4 linked regions of the Homo sapiens genome follow. The protein of the gene in region 3 purifies or fractionates together with the protein of the main gene of each other region. This does not show direct contact. Each region holds a gene or a part of one and is shown on either strand. Other genes may lie near its edges.

Evidence for each region.
Region 1: the proteins of MAGIX (region 3) and STK26 purify together in Homo sapiens (affinity purification with mass spectrometry; 3 studies listed by BioGRID and IntAct, with this or other methods). This does not show direct contact.
Region 2: the proteins of MAGIX (region 3) and TJP1 purify together in Homo sapiens (affinity purification with mass spectrometry; 3 studies listed by BioGRID and IntAct, with this or other methods). This does not show direct contact.
Region 4: the proteins of MAGIX (region 3) and STK24 purify together in Homo sapiens (affinity purification with mass spectrometry; 3 studies listed by BioGRID and IntAct, with this or other methods). This does not show direct contact.

What each region holds. Positions count from the first base shown.
Region 1 is NC_000023.11:132,061,283-132,068,316, reverse strand, and holds part of STK26 (serine/threonine-protein kinase 26), read right to left. Parts: intron 4,885-7,034; coding exon 4,828-4,884; intron 103-4,827; coding exon 1-102. UniProt on the Homo sapiens protein: Serine/threonine-protein kinase that acts as a mediator of cell growth. Modulates apoptosis. In association with STK24 negatively regulates Golgi reorientation in polarized cell migration upon RHO activation.
Region 2 is NC_000015.10:29,812,469-29,819,468, reverse strand, and holds part of TJP1 (tight junction protein 1), read left to right. Parts: intron 1-7,000. UniProt on the Homo sapiens protein: TJP1, TJP2, and TJP3 are closely related scaffolding proteins that link tight junction (TJ) transmembrane proteins such as claudins, junctional adhesion molecules, and occludin to the actin cytoskeleton.
Region 3 is NC_000023.11:49,158,327-49,165,783, reverse strand, and holds the start of MAGIX (PDZ domain-containing protein MAGIX), read right to left. Parts: upstream 3,027-7,457; 5' UTR 2,895-3,026; coding exon 2,846-2,894; intron 2,002-2,845; coding exon 1,855-2,001; intron 1,078-1,854; coding exon 995-1,077; coding exon of another isoform or gene 922-994; coding exon 694-921; intron 595-693; coding exon 423-594; intron 1-422.
Region 4 is NC_000013.11:98,462,083-98,469,116, reverse strand, and holds part of STK24 (serine/threonine-protein kinase 24 isoform b precursor), read left to right. Parts: intron 1-2,555; coding exon 2,556-2,741; intron 2,742-5,280; coding exon 5,281-5,426; intron 5,427-7,034. UniProt on the Homo sapiens protein: Serine/threonine-protein kinase that acts on both serine and threonine residues and promotes apoptosis in response to stress stimuli and caspase activation.

The sequences.
Region 1 (7,034 bases), about 83 Mb from region 3:
GTCTCGGTGAATTTTCTTTTCTGAATGCAGATAGTCCAGACCTTTTAAAATTTCCTTTAGCATGGTAGCAATCTGGAACTCATCAAATGGACCAGCTCGAAGCTTAAGGGGAAAAACACACACACACATACACATATGTGTAAAAGTTTGGAAACATAAAATTCAAAATTGGTACCTTTGAAATGAAGAAATCACTTAGACACATGATGCCGTTCTGTTTATCAAACCAATATCTAAACAAGGAAGGAAAAATGTAAAATGTGAAGGAAGAAAGCAAAAGAGTTCAGTCAAAGGGCTGAACAGGTTTTTTAATGATTCAATTTAATGAAAGATAATACGAGCCCTTTTACCTATATACTAGGCTTCAAATTCTGAGGTTCCTGAATATTTACATCAAAGATGAAACAAATATGCTTACGTAATGACAGAACCAACTATCTGTTCTTTAGATGGAAAAAAAGAGAAATCAGCTACTTAAATTCAGGCAATTGCTGTGAAAAAGTTACTACATATTGACACGAAACTGATTTTTAGGTCAGAGAATCCATAAGATTTCCACAGCAACTATTTGATCATATCAGTCAGCATTTATGTATTTTAATAATATTGCAAAGAATAGCCTTTTTGAGACTCAAATTGTAAATTTAGCCAAGAATATAATAATTAAACTATTCAGACTATGATGGTAAAAAAAAATTAAATCATGGAGGGATAATGTTTTTCAAATAAATGTAACACATATCCCTTTATTTCCCCATCCCTGTACCAAAGCCAATAGTTCCAACTGGAATACAAGGAAAGCAATGATTAGGTTTCAGGAGAACTTGTAATGGAATATCTGAAAATCCCTCTTTAAAATAAATGGTTATTTTAAAATTCTGGTACCTCATAAAGCACAAACAGTGGACTGTACAATATTATTACAGGAAAGGGTGGGAATCTAAAGTCAGAGCAGAGGTAGAGTTCTGTTTGCTTCTGGAAGGAGGGAAGAGGTGGTGAAAATCAAACATTGCCCACTCTGCCTCACACTGGGAGGGATCCACAGCTCTTTGGCACCTTGTGTATTTCATCTTTCATGAATGCCATATTTATGCTGAATAAAGGGCACTTTCATGTTGAAATTTAACAGCTTAAAATAGAACTCATACTTTGGTCTCACCATCTAATATTAACTGTGGTCTGGGTATATAGTATACTCCAGGGATATCTGTAATTCAATAGGTCCCTTTCCTAGGTAACATTATCTACTTACTTTCAAATCTATCAACTTCCACCCCAAAGTTTCTATTCAAACAGTAGTGATTAAAATAGTTTCTAAAGTCTTCTAGAAAGGTTGAAAATGGCATACTATTTTGTTGATGGCTGGCAATGAACTTCTGAGGTACTACAAAATAACTAAAGGACAAATGTCACACTACTTAAGATCAGTAATTAGTATCATCTGATCACAGGACATTGGCAAGACCAGGGGAGGTATATCCTTGGTTATTTCAGTGATTGGGCAAGATTAATGTACGACCTACTAGCTATCATTCTGAAGGACATGTAAAAGTAACATAAATAAGCCAGTATATTACCTAATACAGAAGTTTTTAAAAATATTTAAGTAAAAACAACAAAAAGGGGATCCCAAAGATTCATGAGCTTATCTGCTATATTTTAGGTTCATGTTAAAATTCAATAAAAGTGAAATCTCAATTAACTGGGTGCTAGAGGAGGATGGGAAGAAAGACTCTGTGGCAGGGAGACTTCTCCATTTGAACTTTTCTCCGATAACTGAAGAACTTGCCATGTCTCTAACAGATAATATCTCTGTCCCAGGGCAGTGTACTTGCCTTGTGTAATTTGCCTCTGTTGTCAAGTAAGAATATGCAAGAGAGGGACCTTGACTCTTTCGAAGACTGTACATTTGTGAGCTCATGGATCTTTGTCACAATTTAACTTCCAGCCAGTCCCTAATGCAGTCTGCTATTTTATGCCCTCTCTTATGGTTAGCATATTGTTTCTTTTTTCTTGGGGCTCATGTTTTATTCTAGTCATCTTATTATATGTGTTTTTGTTGCAAGCCACCACGATTCTTTTTGGAAAGAAGTGGAGCATAATAAACTCAATAAAATGATGTGCAATATACTCAAAGTCTGCTCACATACAATAAATTGTTTTTCAAGAATGGGAGTGACTCAAGGTAGACACTGTATAATGTTAACATAAATGACAAGTTGTAATCTTATGTTATTCCATTAGTTAGGTACCAGGCACCAGTTTAATGTGAGAAACACTCTCTGCTAAACATCCCTCTTATTTCCTCTTGTTCTTAGTAGCAGAGCCTTCCTCTACACCTAATCCTGTCTTAGATTCCCCCAAATGATAGCATTTATTTGTACAGGAATATACATGAAAAAGGAATAGCACATTTTCTCATTATCTGCTCTCCCTGTAAAGTCTAGTTAAATGAGTTTTATAATTAAATCACAATATTATTGAATTTTAGAGCTAAGAACACAAAATTAGAGATTACTGATTCAATTTCTTCATTTAACATGTGAATAAATTAAGACACAAGGAGGCTAAAGGGCCGCCCAATATTTGCCAGGCAGTCAGTGTTAGCACTGGGTTTATGACCTAGGCCTTTTGATTCTTAACCAATACAGTACTAACAACATTTTTCATTCATTGAAACTGTTATTAATGGCTATTTGTTTTATTAAGTAGAGTTCAGAATAGCAGGATGAGATTAAGATCTCACAATCATTTAACTTGGAGATTTCATAAAACTGACCAAACTACTAATAGGGGACACAGATTTGGGTCATTGGTTGGGGTTAGGCCAGTGTTCACTGTTTAACATTGCTATCAGTGATCCTGTTGAACAGAGTGGCCTAGCTTTGCCAGTGCTTCCAAAATGGGGAAGAGATATGGTGAGCACCCTGAGGAACCAGATAAGACAACTGATAAATTTGGAAAGGGCTCTTAATATTCAAAAAATGGAAGGAGGATCATGAAACAATTGAGAGGCTTCTTGTAGAGCTAATGAAAAAACTATTGAATAATATGACTCTGTGACAAGACAAATAGAAATGAGATCATTTAACTTCAAGAGGAGAATGAAGCCTGACTCCATATGCATGAAGGATTATTACACAAAGAAACATCAGTGGTGTTCTCTCACTAGAGACGAGAGAAAAAAAATGAACTCAGGCTTTAGGATATAAGAATTAGATTAGACACAAGGAAAGATTACCAAATTCAGCAACTGATTAAACTGACATGAATTCCTAGTAGTAGATGAGGCTCTCCATCAAGTTTAATTACCATTTCTTTAAAATGGTTTAAATATGGTTCTGCCTAAAGGAAAGAAAATCTCTTATAGTCATTTCTGTTCATAAAATTATTTGAAGCTTTGAGTTACTGGCAGTCAAGGTTAAAGCCTTTTAAAAATATTTAATCACTTTCAGTTAGGAAAACTCATCTCCACCTAAAAAAATAAGAATTAAAATATTACTTGATTATTTTAATCAAAACACTTTCTTAGAAACAGCATACTCTATAATTTCTAAGGCAGAAACACGCAAATAAAAAAAATATAATATTAAAGATGGAAGGGAACTTAGAAATAACTTAGTGCAACTTCTTTGTTTTATAGAACACCTACGTCCAGGAAGTTTGTGTCTGGTTCACAGGCACAGAGCCAGACCTATAACCTCAAACACCCCAGGCCAGCCCAGTGGTCATTCTACTACACTAAGTTGCCTCTCATAAGTCATACTGAATTTTAAAACATAGTATCATATTAATAAAGATTTTTAAGGAAGGGAAAGAAACTCAACATTGATAGGATCACACTGAATTGGGGAACAACCAGTGTTTCTCAAAGGCATTCTGTGTGTAAATGCATCTTCATTGGGTTGAATTTTCCTGCACACTGCAGGATTTTAGCATTCTGATCCATGACCACAAAAATGGCAGGAGCACTTCTAAGTCATTGTGACAACCCAAATGCCATCACATTTCCAAATAACCTATAGAGGGGCAGAGAGAACTCTGTGAAGAACTGGATCTGTAGGCCAACCTTGTTTAGAACCCTAGTACCACTATCTTAGTCAATTCAGGTGCTATAGCAGAATACCACAGACTGGGTGGCTTAAACAATATTTCTCACAGTTCTGGAGACTGGGAAAGAAGTCCAAGATCAAGGGGCTGGCAGATTCGAGTCTGGTAAAGGCACTCTTCCTGGTTTCCAGAAGGCCTTCTTCTCACTGCACCCTCTCGTGGTGGAAAGAAAGTCAGAGAGCTCTCTGGGGCCTCTTTTGTAAGGGTGCGAATCTCATTCATGAGAACTCACCTTCATGACTTAATTAGGTCCCAAGGTCCCCACCGCCTAATACCATCACATTGGGGGTTAGGATTTCCACATATGAATTTTGGGGGGACACAAACATTCAGTTCATAAAAAACACTTTTAGTGACAGTTATCTCAATTACATATTTTTTAAAAATCTAAGAAAACTCAGTTTTTTCAGGGATAAGCTTGCAAAAGTCAAACTTTGACAGCAATGGATACACACATCCCCTTCTAATTTGGGAGACTTTATTTTATTAAGCTATTTGCATTTCTTATATAGTCTTAGAATGCCAGCAACATGTTCAAACGTACAATACATCTGTACCTACATAAGGTAGAGGTCATGAAAAAAGAATTTAATTTGAACATATTAACTAAAGCAACCACTTAGCGTGCTCAAAAGCCATTAATCTTCAATTTAAAAAATTAAGGTATGTGCATATGCACACATTTGCATCTGTGTGTAACTATTTTAAAATACTTACAAGATCCAGTGCTGAACCACCGCCCAGGTATTCCATTATTATCCATAATTTAGACCCCTGTAAAGCCATGAAACAATTTAATAATTACAAACCTGAGCCAAAATAACATACTAGCAAAAATGTTAAATCTCACATACTAAAGCACAGATTCTATTTGCATGTTCTCATTTATTTGTGGGAGCTAAAAATTAAAACAATTGAACCCTTGGAGATAGAGAATAGAAGGATGGTTACCAGATGCTGGGAAGGATAGTAGGGAGGGGGAGTTGGTGATGGTTAATGGGTACAAAAAGTAGTTAGAGAAAATGAGTAAGATCTAGTATTTGATAGCACAACAGGGTGACTATAGTCAATAATAATTTAATTATACTTTTAAAAATAAGTAGAAAAGTATTACCGGACTGTTTGTAACACAGAGAGTAAATGTACCCTGATGTGATCATTATACATTATATGCCTTTATTAAAATAGCTCATGTACCCCCATAAATATTTACACCTTCTTTGTAGCCACAAAAATTAAAAATTAAAAAAATAAAGAACAGATTCTAAAATGTAGGTTTAAAAATGGTTGCTTGGGAACCCCGAATATATTTTTTCCATAGAACATTCCAAATTAAAATTCTGAGCTTAGACTACCCGCATACCTTTTTGCCTATGATATAGCTAAACAAATAAAAGTACTGTTTGTTATTGTTGAACTATTAGTAATTTTTATAAAAAACAAAGCTTTAAATAATTATCTTGAATGATATTGGAAAGAAAAGATAGTTACATTAAAGAATGAGGAGGTAAATGAGGGCTTGTAGAAATTTTGGGTTTGAGTTTGAGGACAATGGATATTTTGCCTTATTTCAGTTGTTGGCTTTCATTTGTTTTGATGTACTTCAAACTTTTATCAGCTACGGTTAATGGGCATTTTTGGCACACACGGAACCTAGAAAGAATATTGTTCATTTTACCTCTGATGTAAATGGATAAGAAAAAGGGAGAGTGTAGCTTTAAAAATCTGTGCTTTCTCCAGGTGGAATTAACTTCCCTGTGAGCTGAACAAGAGGAAATGGGGCTCCTGGGAGGAATATATGTATACAAATTCTAAAACAGGTGTACACACACACATACCATTCAGTACCATCAGTTAAACACTGGAATAAACCATTAAACCCTTTTTATTTTAGCTATAGCTTAAATACAAGGGACACCTCTCTCTCCATACCATTTCATGAGTGGTATTCTCTGAATTTTTGTGGGACCAAAGAGCTGACTGGAAGTAGAATGGTTGGCTTTACTATACTGGCAGCAGCCAAGTAGTGACTGGACTGTGTTCCAAAAGTTGGTTTTTAAGTAAGATGTTCAGAATTTTAAAAGCAAGCATTTTCCCATAAAAATAATGTCTAAGTTCCTGGGGTAGTCCTCCCAAAAGACAATTTCACACAAATGTATTCATTCGTAGTATAGCATAAAAAGTACCAGAGAAACTCACTACTATTTATATCTTAACAATATTTCAAGTAGGAAAATATATTCAGCATGGTGCCTCAACTTGGGATGCCAGAAACACATTTCTCACCTTTACAACCCCAGCTGCGGGGTGAAGATTCTCAAGCTACTGCCAGTAGCCCTCAAACTCAAAAATCCCTGGGAGGTATTCAGGAGTCCAATTTAAAATTTCCAGGCATCTCCATGAGGATGTGACTTTATCAAGGCAGAGAATGGAACCCAGTGACATGATGATGAGTGCTTAGGGGATGGGAGAGGGTTGAAGAATCAGAGTGGAACTGACATTGTAGTGTGGGGAATGGGATGTGGCCTAGGGTTAGCGATCATGAAGGGAGGGCTCAGTTAATTAAGACAAAATGATTCTCCTTTCCATATGCTGACACTATGTAGAATTTGTAAGAGAAAGGGAGGAACAATATTCCCCTACCACTTCCTCCACTAATCTTGACATCCACTCTGTCCTGACATAGATGGCCAGCAGGCACTGTGAGCAGAAAGCTGAGAGTCTTGGTTAGCAGTGAAGTCTACATTAGGAAATAGAGGAAATAAATTCCCACAATACTGGTGAGGGAAGAGGAGTTCCAGGAAAGGTTCATATAACTTGTATTTGTGTATAGAACCTAGGCACTCGCAACCTGAGAATTGTGACTCTGATGTACCTTTATACTTTTTTCAAGAGAAGAAAAAAGTGGTTCTTACAATGGTGGA
Region 2 (7,000 bases), on a different chromosome or scaffold from region 3:
TGTCAGGTATTGTTCTAAGTGCTCAATTTATTTAATTCTCACAGTAACCCTATGAAGTGAACTATTATCTCTACTTTTTGGTGAAGAAATTGAAACACAGAGATACGATAACTTTTAAGTTCATTTAGCCAGCAAGGTGGAAAACTACGAATATGTGGTAAAAAATAATATTGTAGACTATTGGAGAAAGTGGCTTGTTCAATGTATGGTGCTAGGACTATTGGTTATCCATTTTTTAAAAATGTTTTCTGCCTCATAGGCTAAAAAAAATCAAAGGAAATCTAAATGACAAAGAGCAATAAAAATTCTAAAATAGAAGAAAATGTAGAATACTACTTAAAAATATGTATGTACCTAGATTGAAAAGAATCCTCCGTGCATGATACTAAAGAAGTAATAAAGGCGGGTGGGTCACTTGAGGTCAGGAGTTCGAGGCCAGCCTGGCCAACATGGTGAAACCCCGTCTCTACTAAAAATACAAAAATTAGCCGGGCATGGTGGCGCGTGCCTATAATCCCAGCTACTTGGGAAGCTAAGGAAGGAGAATTGCTTGAACCTGGAAGGCGGAGGTTGCATTGAGCTGAGATCGGGGCCACTGCACTACAGCCTGGGCGACAAAGTGAGCTTCCGTCTCAAAAACAAAAAGTAATGAAGGAAAAAACGTGGCCGGGCGCGGTGTAATCCCAGCACTTTGTGAGGCCAGGAGGGGCGGATCACGACGTCAGGAGTTCAAGACCAGCCTGACCAACATGGTGAAACCCCGTCTCTACTAAAAATACAAAAAAAAAAAAAAAAAAATAGCCGGGCCTGGTGGCGAGCACCTGTAATCCCCCCTAATGGGAAGGCTGAGGCAGGAGAAACGCTTGAACCCGGGAGTCAGAGGTTGCATTGAGCCAAGATCGCACCACTGCACTCCATCCTGGGCGACAGAGCGAGACGCTGTCTCAAATAAATAAATAAAGGAAAAAAACGTTTTTTATATGTGTGATAAACGTCTGCGTTCGCAGTCAGAATTTTGTTTACTGGTGTATTTGATTTAAGATTATTAGAAAGTTGAAAAACAAGAATTAGGGTGGTTCTCTGCGTCACCAAAGAATTGTTTAAATGTGTAAGAAAGTGGTATGAATCATTGTTAAGAAACGATTTCATTGGTTGAATCACAGAAAAGTGGCTGAAGGAAGTTTCAGTGGCTTCTGTGTTTTCAAGCTGTTTTCCTTTGGAGGAAGCAATAAAATTTAATTTAAGATTGTGCTATTGTATATGCTTATTAGATTTTGCTGAATACTTAAATGTTTTTGTTAAGTCTCGGGAATAGTAGTATTGCCCGCTGTGGCTATCTGAAATTATAATGTAAGTATGAAAATGATTTATGTCATTTTTTACTGTTACACTGATTTACATGATACCCAGGAATTGATTTATTGTATCAAGTGGAGCACAGTGGGCTTTTTTTTTTTTAATTAAGTTCTGGGATCCATGTGCAGAATGTGCACATTTGTTACATAGGTATACGTGTGCCATGGTGGTTTGCTGCACCTATGAACCCATCATCTAAGTTTTAAGCCCCACATGCATTAGGTATTTTTCCTAAATGCTTTCCCTCCCTTTCCCCCCACCACCAACCCGGGTAACAGGCCCCAGGTCCTGGTGTGTGATGTTCCCCTCCCTGTGTCCATGTGTTCTCATTGTTCAACTCCCACTTATGAGTGAGAACATGTGGTGTTTGGTTTTCTGTTCTGGTGTTAGTTTGCTGAGGATGATAGCTTCCAGCTTCGTCCGTGTCCCTGCAAAGGACATGAACTCATTCTTTTTTATGGCTGCATAGTATACCATGGTGTATATATGTACCACATTTTCTTTATCCAATCTGTCATTGGTGGGCATTTGGGTTGGTTCCATGTCTTTGCTATTGTAAATAGTGCTGCAGTAAACATATGTGTGCATGTGTCTTTATAGGAGAATGATTTATATTCCTTTGAGTATATACCCAGTAATGGGATTACTGGGTCAAATGGTATTTCTGGTTCTAGGTCCTTGAGGAATTGCCATACTATCTTCCACAATGGTTGAACTAATTTACATTCCCACCAACAGTGTAAAAGCGTTCCTATTTCTCCACAGCCTCGGCAGCATCTGTTGTTTCCTGACTTTCTAATAATCACCATTCTGACGGGTGTAAGATGGTATCTCATTGTGGTTTTGATTTGCATTTCTCTAATGATCGGTGATGATGAGCATTTTTTCATATGTTTGTTGGCCGCATAAATACCTCCTTTTTTTTGGCAGCATAAATGTCTTCTTTTGAGAAGTGTCTGTTCATATTCTTTGCCCAGTTTTTGATACGGATATTTGTTTTCTTGTAAATTAGTTTCACTTCCATGTGGATTCTGGATATTAGACCTTTGTCAGATCAGTAGATGGCAAAAGTTTTTCTCCCATTCTGTAGGTTGCCTGTTCACTCTGATAGTTTCTTTTGCTGTGCAGAAGCTCTTTAGTTTAATTAGATCCCATTTGTCAATTTTAGCTTTTGTTGCAATTGCTTTTGGTGTTTTCATCATGAAGTCTTTGCCCATGCCTATGTCCTGAATGGTATTGCCTAGGTTTTCTTTTAGGGTTTTTATGGTTTTGGGTTTTACATTGAAGTCTTTAATCCATCTTGAGTTAATTTGTGTATACAGTGGGCTTTTCTTGATATCTTAACGTTTTTGAAACCTTAAGAGCTGCAGAAAATGGCCAAGCTAATGAACAAAAATTAATGACAAGAGTCAGTCATTACATATAGGGATTGTTTCTTGAGTGAGTGATGCAGTGTTTTAATTATGATAGTTACTGATCAATGCATACTTGCTTCATACTGTTTTAAAAGTGAAAAACTCACTGTAGTTTGTGAGAAGTCACTGAAGTTTGGCTGCCAACTTTTAATGATCCTCACTGTAGCAATAATTTTTGTGTGTGTTTGGCATTTTAGACCATCATGGTTAAAGCTTTAATTTATATAGTTGGCTGATAATCCTAACTACATTTTACAACTCTTACATTTGTTTCAGGACAGCTTCATAAGATAGTTATGTTTCAAATTGTGGTGTTCTTCCCCCCCAGGTTATATATTGGCACAAATTACATTATATTATTAGGAAAGACACCAATTTGCCAGACTCAAGCATGTAATCCCTGCACTTTGGGAGGCTGAGGCGGGCATATCACCTGAGGGCGGGACTTCAAGACCAGCACAACCAACACGGCCGAAACCCCGTCTCTACTAAAAATACAAAAATTAGCCGGGTGTGGTAGCACATGCCTAAAATCCCAGCTACTTGGGAGGCTGAGGCAGGAGAATCATTTGAACCCAGGAAGCAGAGTTTGCAGTTGAGCCAAGGTTGCAGTGAGTCGAGATAGCACCACTGCACTCCTGCCTGGGCAACAGAGTGAGAGTCTGTCTCAAAAAAAAAAAAGGAAAGACACCAATAAATAATGAGGTGGAAACCAATCTGTGGCTTCGAGGGCTGTAACGCAGTATATGTAGTACTGCTTCCCGTTTGATTTGAAGGAAAAAAAGTACAGTAGTTCCACTCCCTTTTTCCCCTCCAATCCTGGAAACAAGGTCTGGCTCTGACTTTTACTTGCTCTTTAATCTCTTTTCTGTTTAGAGACCAAATGTAAACTCTGTACAGTTCTAAGAATAAAACTGTGTATAAATATGATAGATCACCATGCTGCTAAGGAAAATGTCTTTAAAAATAATAGTTTTGGTGGAAAATTTGAAGACGTAATCCTGTTACTTGACATACCCCTGATATGATAAAAATTCACCTTACTGAAAGACCATGAGTCCAGCTGTAAATTCATGTGTAGTGCCACCCATCTGTGACTGCTCAGTCATTGCTCATTTCAGGCCTGCCTGAAAGCATTCACGTGCTCAGCATTGTGTATGACTGAGCATTATAGTAGCTGAAGACAAGCTAGTGGAATGAGCCAGTCATTTCTAATTAGCAAAGTTTTGATATGTTAAATAAAAAGATAGTTTATGTCTAGAATGATCCTCCTGGAATATTTGACTGGAACTTGCTTTGCACCTCTGAATTTTGAAAGCAAATCTTGAAAAACCTTTTTACTTTAACAACTTTTAGTCTTGTAGAAAGAAATAGACATTAGGATAGTTTACAGATTTTAAAGTTAATCCTATAAAATTGGTGTGTTGCAGTATTTCTTGCATAAGCCAGCAATAAAAATAAGACTTTTGCTCTCTCTGACCTAGAGTGCATCTTTATTTATTTATTGCAGAGAAGAGTGGCTTCAGGTTGCTCCTTTATGGGCTAGCCAGGTGCTTTATTTCCATTCCTCTTAAACAGATAAATTCTTAATAATGAGCAGTATGTGGGGAATACGTGGGTAGGGAGTTTTATCTTATATCCTAAGCATGGATGAAAATAAATGGACTCTGAATGATTGCCTTTACCACAAGAACACAGCTTTAGATCATGAGAACACCAATGTTACCAAACTTTGTACTGTAAAACACCATTTGAAATGTGATAACAAAACCCTGTCATATATGTAGTGCTCAATACTGAATCTCAGGTGGCCCTCACTTTGGGATAGATCAAGAGATAAGGTTTTATTAGTTTGTGTTGCGGATATATTTCAGTTGATATACTGAAAATACTGGGAAGTGAGTTAACTGGTGAATGATCTCAATTCTAGTTTATCATGTCCGGAAAGGAGGTAAAACAGAAGCTGATATTACTTTCTGTGGATTCTAATTAGGAACATAAGATTAGCGTATACCTGGTTTAATTAATTTTTTTTGACTTACCGAAATATTTTTTCCTTTTTAAAAAAATGTAAATTCCCAAAGACTGAAAAGTTCATTTTTCTTCTTGGTTATCTTAGGAATTTTCACGCTTTTGGAATTGTCATTATCTTGGAGATTGTACAACAGTTTCTGGTAACTGAATATCACCAGTTAAACTTAATATAAGATTAGCTCACTTAATTTAGTATGTAATTTTAAAATTCAGGAGGATACCAGTAATGACTAATTCTTTTTGTTAGCTTAACACATATTAAATGAGTACATTTTGTTTGGGATCCCGATCCTAGAAATTTACAGTTTTCAACTGCTATACGCTGTAATGATCACTTTGTGAATTGTGTAACTCATTGTTGAAGAAACAAAGGATTTGCATTGTTTACTCTTAAAAATACGAGCAAACTTATGGTCATCCTGTAATAACAGAGCATTCTTGTGTGCTTTCTTCGTTGGAGGAGGTGACAAAGTCATTTTCTAAACCTGGGCTTGCTGTTTAGCAGAGTTTCTGTATTTTTCCTTGTTAATGTTTTTAAATGTTTGAATTGAATCTGGATACATTGATGTAAGTGTTTTCTGCATATGTTTGGTATCAATATCTCAATAGGAGGGAGACATTAAGAATTATAAAGTAATTGGCTTATATGCTTAACAGCTCCTTGAATATACTGACAAGGCAAATGAACACTATACTAGCTGTTACTGTTACATTTAGGGTTCAAGAAGCTGTGAAATATGTAACAATTTGGATTCCTAAAGCGGAATTTTACATTCAGCAGATATTTGTTGGTTACCTCGTGTGTACCAATCACTGTTGTAGGTGCTGGAGATGCAGCAGTGAACACATCTCTGTACTGATAGGGCATTTTAATGGTGCGGGTAGAGAGCAGCAAATAAAATTCTGTCCATAATGATAAGTGCTAGAATCCCTAACATGCCTTTTCTGGGTCATATCCTCCCTTCTTCAAAGATTGCATGTATCTTGTCTTCTAGGTTTCTCATTTTCTAGTTTTTCTTTATAGTTACCACCTAATTATGCATTCTGAAAGCACTAGTTTTGACTCTCTGAACTTTGCGCATACAGAATCTTCTAGTGTGAATTCTGTTGTATATGGCTTCTTTTGCTCAGCATTATGTTTGTAAGATTATGTTGTGGAGAACTGTAGCTCATTAGTTTTCATTCAGTTCTTGTACTTCATGGTATTCCATTGTATGAGGACTTTATTGGTTTCGGGAGAAAATAGTTTCAGTTAGACTTCTGTGGCTTTTTGGAGAAAAATATTGTATATGTCTGTCTGAGGGGCAAGAATTAGATATGCATTATGAGGCAGTCATTGGAGTACCAACAGCTGAGCAAAAGGTAGTAAGCTTCTTTTGGTGTTCCTATGATTATCTTGAAAAATCAAGTTGGTCTTAGTTTGGAGGATATTTTATGACTAAGATGTTTGTCATACTAAAGTATGTTTTAGTAGTAAGTATTGAAGTATGTTTTAGTAGTAAGATATCCACTTACCTGACTGATCAGACCACCAAAAGCCACAATCAGGGGAAATACATGAATCTGGCAAAAATGAGTCTGCCTTTCAAAATATAATTGTGGAAGTTTTTCCTGGTAATGTCATATAAAGGTACTAAGGAAGGTTTATTTACTGATTTTTTTTTTCTAACAGTGGCAGTTATTGGAGTATTAATACTTACTGGAGTGTTAATACAGAAGTACACTATTTTGATGCTGTATCACCTATAAAAATCAAGTCAGTAGCCATGGCAAGTAGGCTTACATTTTAGTTATAAGTGTGAGAAATATGTGTCAAAACAAACAGTAGCCCCTTATATTGCATGCTGACTCTGTGACAGATACTGAGCTAAGTGTTTTATGTGCATTATCCCATTTAATCTTCACAATTCTGTTAGATACTACGATTATCTCTGTTTTTACAGGTGAAGGATCTGAGGTTAAATTTACTTGCCATAGGTAATCATACATCTACTTACATGTTCTATAAGTCATACATTCACATCCTTTTATGTTCGTGTGTTGTAAGAGAGCACCAGGGAGAAGAGTATGGGATGGTGTTAGGTAAGTCTTAGACCAGAAAAGCAGCATGAATCATGAAAGCCAGAAGAGAGGGCACTGCTCCATCAGAGCACAAGCCAGTTTGTCTAAAGGAAGCAGCTCTTGCTCAGCCCCAG
Region 3 (7,457 bases):
TCCGTTGACTCCCAAACCACCGACCCTTTGTTTTTCAGAACTAGACCCCCTACCCTCTGGATCCCCATCCCATTTTCCCCCGGCTAAGATCCACTCTGCCTTCGCCTCTGAGAACTAAGACCCTTCCTTCCAAACACTTGCTTTTATCCTAGACCCCTTCCCTTCTCTTCCCCCAGTACCTGGAAAACCCACCCTCTGAAATTCCTATCCTCGAGACTGACACCCCTCCCTGCCCCTACGTTATTCCTATCCTGGGACCCTGTACCCCTCCCTGCCCCTACTTGTGAGAATACCATGACCTCTTGCAGACCCTCCCCACAGAGACCACCAAACCCTTCCCACCCAGAATCTCAGCTTCTCCACTCTGTGAACCTCTCCCTTCTCCTCACTGATCTCTGACTTCTCTCCCTTGGGAAACCCACCAACTCCTTTTCGGGGCTCTCCCACCCCTCGAGGCTTGCCAGGGTGGGTCTCCAGAGGCCGACGAATAACCAGGTGGAGCTGGGGGCCTCCAGCTCGGATCCGCTCCACGGCCTGGGCATGGGTGAGGCCCTGCGTTGACTCTCCGTTGATGTGGAGCACGAGGTCCCCGACCTGGAGGAGTGCAATGCAGTCGTGTTGGAAAGGCAAAAGGAGAGCACCCCAACAAAGGCAGGGATAGCACCTACCAGTGGAAGGGGCTTCAGGGCTCACCTCCAAACGACCACAGCGCTGTGCTGGGCCATCCTTCAGCAGCCCGCGCACGGCCAGCGGAGTGTCCCCAGCTACATCCCGGCCCCCACCTAAGGTGAGGCCAAAGCCTGCGTAACCGCGAACCAGCTCCACAGAGAAATGACCAGAGGCCTGGGATGGCTTCGGAGCACTACGTGCCTTACCCTGGATCAATTGGGGAGGTGCGTTACATGTCTCTAACCAACGGTGCTGGAATAAAGGACACAGGTGTACATAGTTTGCCCTGAGGCAGGAGGCCTCCGATAGAAGGATGAGATGGTACCTGGGGCCGGTGATCCACAATAGTGGCATGAGGCAGGCGACTGTCTGTGACCTCTATGTCCGCAGAGTCCAGCACGCTAACAGCTGGGAGATAAAAGCAGTGGAGAGGGCTGTTGGGGGACATGCCATGGAAACTACCTAGGACCTGTTCCCTGAGTTAACATTCTAGCCTCATCTACTTGTCTTGCCCCTGCAGCTCATATACAAACTGGCCCACCATTTACGCACCATCCCCTCAAGTAATCTTAAAGGTTCTCAGCCCAAACAAATTAACTGTTCTGACCCCACCTTCTTAATAAACAATCCTGGGCTCAGCCATGTGAATAATCTTCCAGGCCTTCCTATCTCCCTCTAATAACACGCAGAACACATCCCTCAAACAACACCATTCGGCCCACCCTGGAGAATGCTACTCCAAAATTTGGCTCCTGAACCTTCCATAGCACGCCCTCTAATTAGCCTCTAACCCTCATCCCATTCCTGACATCTCAAGCCCCGCCCCCATGGGACTATAGGCTCCACCCCCGTGACTCACATTTCAGGCCTGCCCCTTCGCTGCGTGCCCGCCCCCCAAGCACTCTCCAGGCCCTGCCTCCTCAAAAAGGACCGCCGCCAGAACGGGGGTCCAGTTCCGCACTCTCATCTAATCTAGCCCTCGCCGACTGCAATAACCCTCAAGGAATATGCTAGAATAACCCCAAGGCTCCTCCCACTCGAAGCACCCTCCGATCCCCGCCCCAAGTCGCGCCCCTTGGCCCCACCCAAGACAGGGCAGTAGCTGCTGACCCCCCAGGCCTGTCCCACTGAACCCAACTCCTCTCCGAACCCTCCCCCAGCGGAGGCCCTGCGCCAGTCACTCACCCTCCTTCCGGCGCAGGCGCAATGTGGCGCCCGCCCTGCGTACCAGCGCTGCCACGTCGACCGCAGCTCGCGCCGCCAGGGGGCGCGCGTCCAACCGCGCCAGGAGCTGCCGGGCGCTAGGGCCCGCGAGCGGGGAGGGGCCGCGGCCTGCGCGCAAGAGGGGACAGGTCAACGCCGACCCTCGGCCTCGGCCAACCCCTATGCTTCCGGACGCTCGAAGACCTAGAAATGCCCCTCAGGATACCCGGCGACCCCTGGCCACTCCCTCGATAGTTTCGGAGGTCACTGCTGTCCCTCCCCTCACGCGATCCCCGACCGTCGCGGGTAGCCGGTGCACCCCCGCTTGCTCCCACGGTGTCCCTGGAGATCGCTGTTTGACTGCAATAGTCCTAGACACCTCCGAACACCCCGTGAGGTCCTCGACTGCCCCCTAATCACCCTGGATGCCCAACTCTTCGCCCGCGATATCTCAGGGGACCCCATTTCCCCAGATATCCTGGGAGAACACGGCCTGACCCCATAGCCCCGGAACCCCCAATTCCCCGTCTAAGTATCCTAGGCAACCGCTGCTACCCCCATGAATTCCCTCAGAGGGCCCGTTCCCCCCATGGCCCACATACCTCCAGAGTCCCCCTCCACAGGTCCCCAGGGGCCCCCAGCTCCCCTCCCCCCAGTTCACTAAGACCCTGAGTGCCCAGGTGTCCCCAGTGACCACGGGCAGACCCCTCCCCGCACATCTGCACGTCTCCCTGGAGACTCCTGAGAGCCCCTCCCCTGCTCTGGTGCGCGGCCCTTTCCCTCGTGTGTGGGTGTGGGTAGGGGACCTCCAGCCCAGCCTCCATCGCTGGGCCCCTGCCCCCTGCCACCTTCACTTGGGCGCCAGAGCCGCTCTGTTTACCACCTGTCAGAAGGAAAAGGTGTGGAGCAGACAGGCGGGACGGGGATGGCGGCGACTCGCCCTGTCCTTCCCCAACGACCCCAATCCCTGTACCTCCTCTGCTCCCCCTAGGGTCCGCGGCGTCCCCTGTGCGCGGCTCCATGGCCAGTAGTCCGCCGGGTGGACGCAGGGCTGCCAGCTACGAATTTTGAGCTCTGGGGCGCGCTCACCTGGCGGCCCGCCCAGGCCCTGGAGGCTGAAGCTGGCGGGTCCCGTGCCTGGCTCCCGGACCCGCGCGGTGACCTACCTGGCGGCCAGCAAGGAGGCCTGGCTGTAGGAGCCAGGAGGAGTGCTTGGCCTCACTCTGCTGCAGGCGCCGCACTCTGTTAACTAAAGGTCCTAGTTAGAATTTAAAAGCCTGACAATACCAACTGTTGCTGAAGATATGGAGGAAATGGAACTCCTATACCTCCGGTGGAAATGTAAAATGATATTGCAACTTTATTTATTTATTTAGAGACAGGGTTTCGCTCTTGTTGCCCAGGCTGAAGTGCAATGGCACGATCTCGGCTCACTACAACCTCTGCCTCCCGGGTTCAAGTGATTCTCCTGACTCAGCCTCCTGAGTAGCTGGGATTACAGGCATGCACCACCACGCCCCCCTAATTTTGTATTTTTAGTAGAGACGGGGTTTCTCCATGTTGGTCAGGCTGGTCTCGAACTCCCTAAAGTGCTGGGATTACAGGCGAGGCCCGCCTCAGCCTCCCAAAGTGCTGGGATTACAGGCGTGAGCCACTCGTGCCCGGCCTGCAACTTTAGAAAACAGTTTGGTAGTGTCTTTAAAAACTAAGCGTACACATATGAGCCAGCCATTCCACTCCTGCGTATTTATCTAAAAGAAAGCATACATTTACACAGCCTTGTCTTACAAATATTCATAGCAGCTTTATTTCCTGTCTTATTCATTTAGAACTACTGTAACAAAATATCGTAGACTGGGTGGTTTAAACAACATAAGTTTCTCACAGTTCTGGAAGCCGGAAAGTCCACGATCAAGGTGGTAGCCAATTTGGTTCCTGGTGAGGTCTCTCCTTTTGGGTTGCAGATGCTTGCCTTCTTGCTGTGTCCTCACATGGAATTAAGAGAGTGAAGGAGAGTAAAGGCGTGAGAGAGGCACACACAGAGAGAGGGAGAGATCTCTCTCTTCTGTTTCTTATAAGGTCACAGTCCTATCTGGTTAGGGCTCCACCTTAGTGACCTCATTTTACCTTAGTTGCCTCCTAAAGAAGCTATCTTCAGATACAGTCACATTGGAGGTTAGAGCTTTAACATATATATTTATGGCTGGGCACAGTGGCTCACGCCTGTAATCCCAGCACCTTGGGAGGCCAAGGCGGGTGGATCACCTGAGTTCAGGAGTTCAAGACCAGCCTGGCGAACATGGTGAAACCCCATCTCTACTAAAATATACAAAAATTAGCCAGGCGTGGTGTCAGGTGACTTAATCCCAGCTACTTGGGAGGCAGAGGCAGGAGAATCATTTGAGCCCGGGAGGCAGAGGTTGCAGTGAGTGGAGATCGAGCCATTGCACTCAAACCTGGGGGATAAGAGCGAGACTTCTCTCAAAAAAACAAAACAACAACAACAACAACAACAAATATATATATATATATATATTTATGGGTGGACACAATTCAGTCCATAATATTTGTTAATATCCAAAAACTGGAAATAACCCAAATGTCCATTAATAGTTGAATGAGGCCAGTAATCGCAGCACTTTGGGAGGCTGAGGTGGGAGGATCGCTTGAGCTCAGGAGTTGGTGACCAGCCTTGGCAACATAGTGAAAGATTGTCTCTATTTTAAAAACATAGAAACATTGTCTCTATTTTAAAAATGCTAATGCCTGTAATCCTAGCACTTTGGGAGGCTGGAGGTGGAGGCAGGAGGATTGCTTGAGCCCAGGAGTTTGAGACCAGCCTGGGCAACATAGTGAGACCCCATCTCTCAAAAAGAAAACAATTTTCAATGAAAAAAATAGATGAATAAATTAACAAACTATGGTATACACATACAGGGTAATACAACTCAGCAATAAAAAACAATGAAGGATTTGGATGAATCTCAAAAATAATTATGGTAAAACAAGCCAGACCCACGCTCCAAAAAAGCACATGCTGTATGATTTCTTTTATATAAAAATCTAATAAAATGCAAACTGATATACAGTGACAGAAAGTGGATTAGTGGTTGCCTGGAGGGAGGGGGCCAAAAGGGCAGGAAAGAGGAAATACAAAGGGCAGGAGAAAACTTTTGGCAGAGATAGTTATACTCAGTATTTCTTTTTTTTTTTTTTAAGTGACAGGGTCACATTCTGTCATGCAGGATGGATTGCAGTGGCACAATCATAGTTCATTGTAACCTCAAACTCCTGGGCTCAAGGGATCCTCCTGAGCAGATAGGACTACACATATGTGCCACAATGCCTGGCAAATTTTTTACATTTTTGTAGAGACTGGGGTGGGGGGGTCTCACTATGTTGTCCAGGCTGGTCTTAAACTCCTGGCTTCAAAAAATCCTCCCACCTCTGCCTCCCAATGTGCTGGGATTACAGAGGTGAGCCACCACACCCAGCCTGTTCAGTATCTTCACTGTAGTGATCGTTTCACTGACATAAACATATTCAAAACCTATCAAATTGAAGTCAATTATATCTCAACCCCTTCAAAACTTAAAACAGCTGGGTGTAGTGCATGCACCTGTAGTCCCAGCTACTTGGGAGGCTGAGGCACGAGGATCACTTAAGCCCAAGACTTAGAGGTTACAATGAGCTGTGATCATGCCACTGCACTCCACCCTCAGTGACAGAGCAAGACCCTGTCTTTAAAAAAAATAAAATATAAATTCTCAAAACAGGCTGGGCATGATGACTCACGCCTGTAATTCCAGCACTTTGGGAGGCCAAGGTGAGAAGATCACTAAGGCCAGAATTTTCAGACCAGCCTAGCCAATGTAGCAAGACTTTGTCTCTAATAAATAAATAAATACAATCTTTTGTTAAATTAATGAATTGGGTGGGGCTGTGAGAGAAATTGACTTAATTCTTGAATTACATGAGGCTAAAAGGGGTAATTAGGGTTTTTTTAAATGATTTTTTTTTTTTTTGAGACAGAGTTTCGCTCTGTCACCCAGGCTGGAGTGCAGTAGTGCGAGCTCGGCTCACTACAACCTCCATCTCCTGGGTTCAAGCAATTCTCATGCTTCAGCCTCCCAAGTAGCTGAGACTAAAGGCACCCACCACCACGCCCGGCTAATTTCTGCAGTTTTAGTAGAGACAAGTTTTCATCATGTTGGCCAGGCTGGTCTCAAACTCCGCCCATCTCTGCCTCCCAAGGTGCTGGGATTACAGGCATGACCCACCGTGCCCAGCTGGGTAATTGGGTTGTATTCACAAATGGATGAGGCTAAGAGGGGCATTGATTTGAATCCACAGTGGGGCAGGGCTAAGTGAGGGTTTGCTCCCCCATAGTGTCATTGTAATCAATATTAAAGATAAGCACCAACACTGCTACCAAATAGCTTGGCTTGGCACAACACCAGCAATTTGGAAGCTTTGTTCCGAACTCTCTTGACAGTCTTACCATGCATATCTCATCACCCCCACTTCCCAGAGAGGTACATTGAGGTGTCAGGCAATGCAGTGGCTGGAGTTCCTCCCTCATGTCTGCATCCTCTCTACACCCCTAACCCTGCCAGCAGCCTCAGTGACACATACACTACTCTCTGGCCCTGGAATTTCGGCCCTGCTGGTGTCAGCTCTCTCAGTGAACACCTATCCTGGGCCCCTGCCCCTGTAATTTCAGCCCTGCTGGTGTCAGCTGTCTCAGTGAACACCTATCCAGCATCCTGGGCCCCCGCCCCTGTAATTCACGTCCCCTGAGGATGTCCTTGGACCCCTTCATTCGTTCATGATTCCCCAAGCCTGAATACCTCCCAGCCTGGAAGCAGTTTCCCATCCAGTTGGCAAGCTCCCTGATCGATGTTAGTAGATTCTACCTGGTGCTTGGATGCCTCCCCTCACTGTCCATCTGTCCTCGGCCCTTGGACAATGCCCCAGTCTGCAAGACCCTCCCATGCATGGAGCTACAGAGCCTCAAGCTCTCCTTCACAGTGTGTAAGCACCTCACTCTCACATCCACAGGTTCTTAAAACCTGGAGCCCCAGATTGGAAGCTGCCCTCTCCAGATTCAGGTGTGGAAGTCTCAACAAGAATTGGGAGGAGCAGTGAAGGAGGTCCAGGGTGTCCCCCCTTAGACAAGGTCAGGTCAGAGGTGAAAGAGGCAGGGGACTGCAGGTGGAATGAAAGCAGGAACCGTTCAGACCCTTTCACCTATGAGGATACTGGGTCTCTGAAAGGTGAACGGAGAGGCTTGCACAACCAGCCAGAATGGACATTAGGACACAGTGTGTCCACAGCCATAGTGAAATAGTCACTAACCAAGTGAGTCTTGTAGGTAAGCTGCCTGAAACTGGTGTTGTTGGCTTGCTGCAGGGACCTAGGCAGGTCCCTGAGCCTCTCAGACCCTGAGTTTCTTATTTGGCAAAGTAGTGGTGAAAGGCCCTCTCTCACTGCAATCCCATTCCTCCTTCCACTACAGTCACACTGTGTCCGAATGCTCCCTGCTTGGGGCTTATGTCCCCAGACACTCCCCTTTTCAAACATAG
Region 4 (7,034 bases), on a different chromosome or scaffold from region 3:
AGGCGTTCGGCCGCCTGCTTATTATCTGTCCCTGAACCTGAAAGCAAGTCCTCGGGCCTCTGAGTAAAATCAAGGCAAGCGCATCACCGACGTACTCTCAGCAGAGATCGGCTTCTGCCAGGGCCTGCCTGCCAGTCACCGAGTGTGTTTAGCTGGTTGAGAGGTGCTTGGAGGTCTGGAGGTGCATCCGTCAGAGATCATGTTCAGTAGCACAATAGGGTGACCGTAGTTAATAATTTGTTGTGTTTCAAATAGCCAGAAGAGAAGATTTGGAATATCCCAGCACAAAGGAATGAGCCGTGTTTGAGGTGAGGGGGATCCCAGCTACCCGGATTTGATTGTTACACACTGTATACTTGTACCAGAAAAAATTCATATAACTATTATGTACCCTTACAAATGAGAAGGCTCTGGGTCTGTGTGGCCAGGAGACAGCATGCTTTGAAAACAGCAGTAGCTGTAATGAAATCTGAGAGGCCTGGGGGAAGCAGACAGATGTGGAATCACACAAACTTGAGAGCCACCTGTTGGTGTGGAGAACCGCTGCCACACAAGAGTCACAATTGCCACCTCTGTTCTTGCCTCTCCCCTCCTCGGTCCTCCCTCCTTGTGCCTGCTCACTCCTGTCCTCCTGTCGCTGCCACAGTTCTGGGTGCTTGCCCACCCTGTGCTCCCATGCACCTGCTTCCCTGCTCCTAGGGGCAAGAGACTGGGATCAGTTGCATTTCTGCTGATTTTTAAGATAATGCAATGCAAGATAAAGCAGAGTCCAAGTTGTAGAGGGAAGGAAAATAGTATTACTTCCAACGTCAGCTCTTCTAGACTGACCCCTTCAGTACAAGATTTAGTAGAAAGAATTTAGAACAAGACTTGCTGGCAGCTTTTCATCTTCACTGAGAATAAGGAAATAGAATATGCCGTAGGCATCATTCCCATGGACTGCTGGGCTTGGGGGCTTCCAGTAGGGATTTCTGGTACTCACTAAGGCTGCAGGAACATGGTAAGTGTATCCTCTGGATAGTTAAAGCACCCTGCAGCCACAACGATGCTTCCGCCTATGCATTTCCTTGCTGTAGAGTGAGTGTGAGAGATGTATTCGATTCTCACTGAAGTTCTTGGAATAATGATGGATTCCAGTGCACAGTGAGAACAGCAGGAAAGCTGTACCAGACTCAGGCGTGTTCTCTACCCCAGTCCCCATTCGTCTTTCGCCAGCCCATATAGGACTATGTCCTGCCTCATTGTCGGCCTCTGTCCTGTTTGGGGATTGGTGTCACATGCTGTCAATGTCTCATCAGCTGTCAAGTTCCTCTTAGGATGGCCTGGCTCTTCTCATTGACATGACACATTCAAGGAATTCATTCCTTTGCCTAACTGCTTGGTTGTGCCACAGGCCTGTGCTGGGCAGAAGGAGGTGGGGCAGCTGGACCTGAGATGTCCTAGTGGGGCCACACGGCTTCTGCAGATGTCTCCTCTGGGACATTCGGCAGAAAATGCAGACACTAGAGAGACACAGTAAATGACATCAGCAAGAAACCACCAGACAAATCCCGAATTTGGGACCTGTTTCTTTAAGTTGATGTCCCTGGGGAGACTGGGGACAGGACTGTTGTAGGTTGAAAGAGCCTTAGCGACCTGGCAGTCAGTTGTACCCCGTGGACTTTGGATCCTGATTCAGATAAACCAACCATGGAATGACAGTTTTTGAACAGCTGAGAACATTTAATTATACATGACATTAAGGAATTCGTGTTAATTTCAGGCACTGATAGGTAGTAAAAAGTCTGTATATTGGCACACGGAAATACTCGGGGGAAAATGTCATGATGACTGATTGATTTTAAAATATACTCGGGGAACACATGGACAAAGCTCGTATGGCAAAATGTTAATTAGTAAATTCATGCAATAGGTAGATGAGGATGCATTATATTAATATTTCTCAGTTCTTTGTATGTTTGAACATTTTCATAATAAACTTTTTTAAGTTCTGGGCCCCTGGTAAGGCACCTTACATGGCCACCTCCTCCTCTTCCACCTCCATTCTACAGATGAGAGAAACAGGGCTCAGAGGTTAGCTCTTTCATCTAACGTCACAGGACTTTGACTGTAGAACTGGCATTTCAACCCAGGTATCTTGAGACCAAGGTGCCCACTCTCGACCTCAGAGCTGTGCCCTAAGTTCTAAGCACTGCTGGAGGGGGTGACTCGCGAGCGTACACCCACTCCGGACTCCTCCTCTCTGCTCACCTCTCTTACTGGTCCTGCTGGCCCCCGGGACTCCACGGGGAATGCCGAATGCATCCAGCAGGAGGCGTAGTAGGAGTGAATTGATAAGCCATCTCCATGTAGAGGCAGAAAACATTTGGCATATTACAGTTTCTCCTGTTGTCTCTTTTGAAATTACAGCGAGGGCTTATGTTTTTAAATATCAGTTAAAAATACCTTTTTCAAAACCTCAGAAGTATTGAGACATGTTACCATTTTCCCCCTAAATACTGTGTATTGGAATAGATTCCTGCTTGGTGTTTGTAAAGATGCTTTTCTTGTTGCAGGCAGACATCTGGTCCCTGGGCATAACAGCTATTGAACTTGCAAGAGGGGAACCACCTCATTCCGAGCTGCACCCCATGAAAGTTTTATTCCTCATTCCAAAGAACAACCCACCGACGTTGGAAGGAAACTACAGTAAACCCCTCAAGGAGTTTGTGGAGGCCTGTTTGAATAAGGAGCCGAGCTTTGTAAGTTTCCCAGGGATCACAGCGTACCTCTTCATGTGCGGCTTGACTTGGTTGAGATACATCCTGTTGGGATTGCTTTAATCACTCTTTTCAGCTGTCTTCCTGGTATTATTCATTTTTCTTTTTCTAAGTAAGTATGATTGACTTCTTTGGTTTGCAAATACATTTTAATTTTTAAGTATTAAAAATCTCCTTATTTTCTTTTAGATTTCTGCCATCTCATACTTCATTGAATCTGAAGAATATTCTCCTTAATATTAAATGTGGAATCATAAATGTTTAATATTTATAGAAGATCAGGCCATAAACTGTTACACTGTTTTTAATAATGGCAAAGGTTAGCTGGAAACAAATGGCTAAATATGTCTTTAAAGTAAATGTTTTCACTTTCCAGGTGGCATGTGTTAGGAAACAAAAGATTAGAAAATATAACCAAGCCACCCTCTGTGCTTCTTCCCCTCCCCTTCCTGCCTACTTTCTCTTTTTAGGTTTAATAGACTCTGGCAGAGCCATACAGCAGTAACGACTGTGTGGCTTTGCCTCATTTTCTGTCTGAATTAGGACATTTCTTTGAAAGTAGTGTGTGTGTGTTGGTGTTGGAGGTAGCACCATATGTCCTTGTTTTGTTTCTGAGTTTTCCAGCAGAGTTAGCTGAAGGCTAAGCTGAGCCCCCCTTTTCTTAACTCTTATGTAAAAATGGGTGGTTACTTTTACAAGAGCACCATGGTTTCCTAATATGCCAGTTCTGGTAAAGGAATTAAATGGGTAATGCAACATTTTCTAAGTACGTCTAAGGAGATGCAGGCTGAGACCACCACACCAGTGTTTGATGACTACATCAGCATCGGGTGGTGGTGGGGCTTGTCCTGCATGCCACGATGCTCTGCATTTTATTACACGATGATGTTTCTTGCAGCCATCATGCACCAGCACCAGTGGAGATGTGTGCAGGCATGTCTTCCCATACAAAGCATGTGTCCTGTATGGGCTTATGCCCCAGCACACAGAGCTCCACCCCACAGCTACCGAGGAGCTGGCTGAGAGGCGAGAATATGAGCACCTCCGGGGTAGTTGGGGTTTCACCCTTGGATGGACAGGGAGGGAGAATACTTGAGGTGATCCACGTTTCTCATGAGTTTGAATCTGAAAACATGCTTGGCTCTTGTAATCAAGCTTTTGTAATTTGGAGTGAGTGGGAACTTGGTTCGACTCGGTGTTTGGGTGTTCCTGCTGTCTGTTCCCATTTGGGCCATGCTGGTTTCCTTGGGAAGCACATTCCCTGTCACTATCGCCATCCTCAAGGCAGGCAGCTGACCAGGTGCTGCTTGCGGTGGCCATGCTGAGCCCAGGGCATGGGTGAAGTCCTCAGCCCAATCACAAGGGAAGGGAGGGAGGGACCTGGGAAATAGCCCTTCTAAACCGGGAAAGTTGGTGGTGAAGCGCATCCAGTTGCTCTTTCAGCAGACAGGAAAAAGGGGATCTCCTGGCTCCTTTCCAGTTTCTCTGAGATAATTCCAAATTGACATTTCTATTATATGGTTGGATGTGGCCAAACGTTAATACAGAAAGTTAACAAAGCAGCCCAGCATGGTGGCTCACATCTGTAATCCCAGCACTTTGGGAGGCCGAGGCAGGTGCATCACCTGAGGTCAGGAGTTCAAGACCAGCCTGGCTAACATGGTGAAATCCCGTTTCTACTAAAAATACAAAAAATTAGCCTGGTGTGGTGGTGCAGGCCTGTAATCCCAGCTACCCAGGAGGCTGAGGCAGGAGAATCGTTTGAACTGGGGAGGCGAGGTTGTAGTGAGCCGAAATCGTGCCACTGCACTCCAGCCTGGGCAACAAGAGCAAAACTGTCTCAAAAAAAAAAAAAAAAAAAAGTTAAACAACACAGAACATATATTTTGTCAGCATTTGTCATAAAGTATTTTATAAACTAGGAGATAAGCTTTTTTTTGAGACAGAGTCTTGCTCTGTCGCCCAGGCTGGAGTGCAGTGGCGCGATCTCGGCTCCCTGCAAGCTCCGCCTCCTGGGTTCACGCCATTCTCCTGCCTCAGCCTCCTGAGTAGCTGGGACTACAGGCGCCCACCACCACGCCCGGCTAAATTTTTTTGTATTTTTAGTAAAGACGGGGTTTCACCATGTTAGCCAGGGTGGTCTCGATCTCCTGACCTCGTGATCTGCCCGCCTCGGCCTCCGAAAGTGCTGGGATTACAGGCGTGAGCCACTGCGCCCGACCAGATCATTTAAGCTCTCTTAAATGATCCCTGTGAAGCTCTGTGCAGAGTTTTCTGTGAAAATGTATTTATTAGGGACATCCTTGGAAAGACAGTGCCCTGCCCACCATAGCACCCAGAGCCCAGGCGTAGGTCCTGAGCGACTCGTCTTTGGGTGAGTTGCAGTGAGAAGCGCTGTGGAGTAGAGAGTCCAGCCATCAGGTGTCAGTGTGGCGGTTGACATTTTGAGGCAGAAGTCTGTCCTTTGGGGTAGGACCAAGAACTTCATCTCATACTTTAATTGTTGGGTGTGTTTTTCCAGAGACCCACTGCTAAGGAGTTATTGAAGCACAAGTTTATACTACGCAATGCAAAGAAAACTTCCTACTTGACCGAGCTCATCGACAGGTACAAGAGATGGAAGGCCGAGCAGAGCCATGACGACTCGAGCTCCGAGGATTCCGACGCGTAAGTCGGCCCCTGAGTGACCCAAGCATGTGTGTGGGAGGGATCCGCTGGTCTTTGTCACTGTTTGGTGTGGGTTTCGTTTTCTGTTGAGTTTTTTTTTTTTTTTAGACAATCCAGGTTGGTGGCAATTGTTGTGTTAGACACAGCCTGGGCCTGTTTGGGAGTTGTTTAGCCTCTTGACGTTGCTGGTGGAGTTTCTGCGAGTGAACTCTTGTGGTAGAGCTGTGCATGGGGAACTGGACCTGGCTGTTTCATTCTGTTTTGTTTCGTTCTGTTCTGTTCTGTTTTCCATTAAACTTCCTGTTTGTAAAACCCTGATCAGGTGAAACTGCTTTACATGGATGTCTGAAAGGCCAGAAATGCATGTGTTTGTGATTCTGTATTGTGTCTGGTAGAAGCTTCTGTACCAGGAGTGGCTTACTGAGAATTGCTGTCAAGTTTGGCATCTAGGAATTCCCTTGGCTTAAGAGGCGGAGTGGGGCTGGAGCCATTTGTGTGGGGAGGGCTGGGGGAGGTGGTCGGGCAGACTTGTGTCTGGAAGTCCGAGCGTGGGACTCGTCTGTTCTCGTGCATGCCTTGGCAGAAGTTAAAGTTGGCCCACAGTGCAGGTCCATGTGCCAGGCCAGTTGAATGAGGATTTCCGGGGATGAGACCCTAAGTGGTTTTTCAGGGTCTCTAGGTGATTCCAGTTTAAAGCCAAGGTTGAGACCACTGCCCCCGGAAGTTCTTGAGGTACTGCCATTGGGAGATTGCTGGGGTAGCAACAGGGATGACAAGAGAAAGAGACTGGAGAGAGGTTTGGAGAGCCAGGACGCGGCGGTGGATTTGGGTGAAGGAGGGAAGCCAATGTTCCAGGCTGGGGCAGCGTGGCACCAGGTGTTGTGATGTGTGGTGCGGGAAGCCGAGTGTGGGGTGAACCGTGTGTGAGTCTGAGTTGTCCAGGAGAGACGTCCAGTGTGAAGTGGCACCGAGGTGTGGAGTTCAGGTGAGAAAGCTGGGCAGGTGAAGCGGGCTTAGGGGCCACTGCTCTGTGGAGGTCACTTGAGCCGAGAGAAAAAAGGGTGTCAGTTGGGGCATGTGGGGGAGTGAGGCTGGCCCCTAGGTGTGAGGGTGAGGCTCCGCCTGTGAGTGAGAGGGGAGAGGTATGGCCGAGGGGCGGGAGGAGGTGCAGGCTTAATGGGGCCACAGGCATCAGGGGATGATCAGCAGGGCCTGGGGCTCATTGCCTCTGAGGCCCATACAGGACAGGGAGTGATCAGCACACCATCATCTCATGATGGGGGAGGGAGCGCTCGGAGGGACACGGGTGGGCTTTGGAGCGAGTGGAGGGTACCAAATAGAGGCAGTGAGTGTGAATCCCAGAACCAGGGCTGAGAGATGGCCAAGGTGAGGCCAAAGTGTTGGAATGACAGGCATGAGCCACCACACCCAACACAGGGACATCTGCTTCCCTGGTGAGAGGAGGAGCCCAGCAGAGAGAAGCTGATGTCCCAGAGATGGGCTCCCAGGGAGGTGGGGGAGGTGTTCTCCGGGAGGAGGAGGAGGGTGGGCATGCACACACTGGCACGCCAGGGAGTTGTGGAACCACCTCCCGATGGTCTCTTCTCT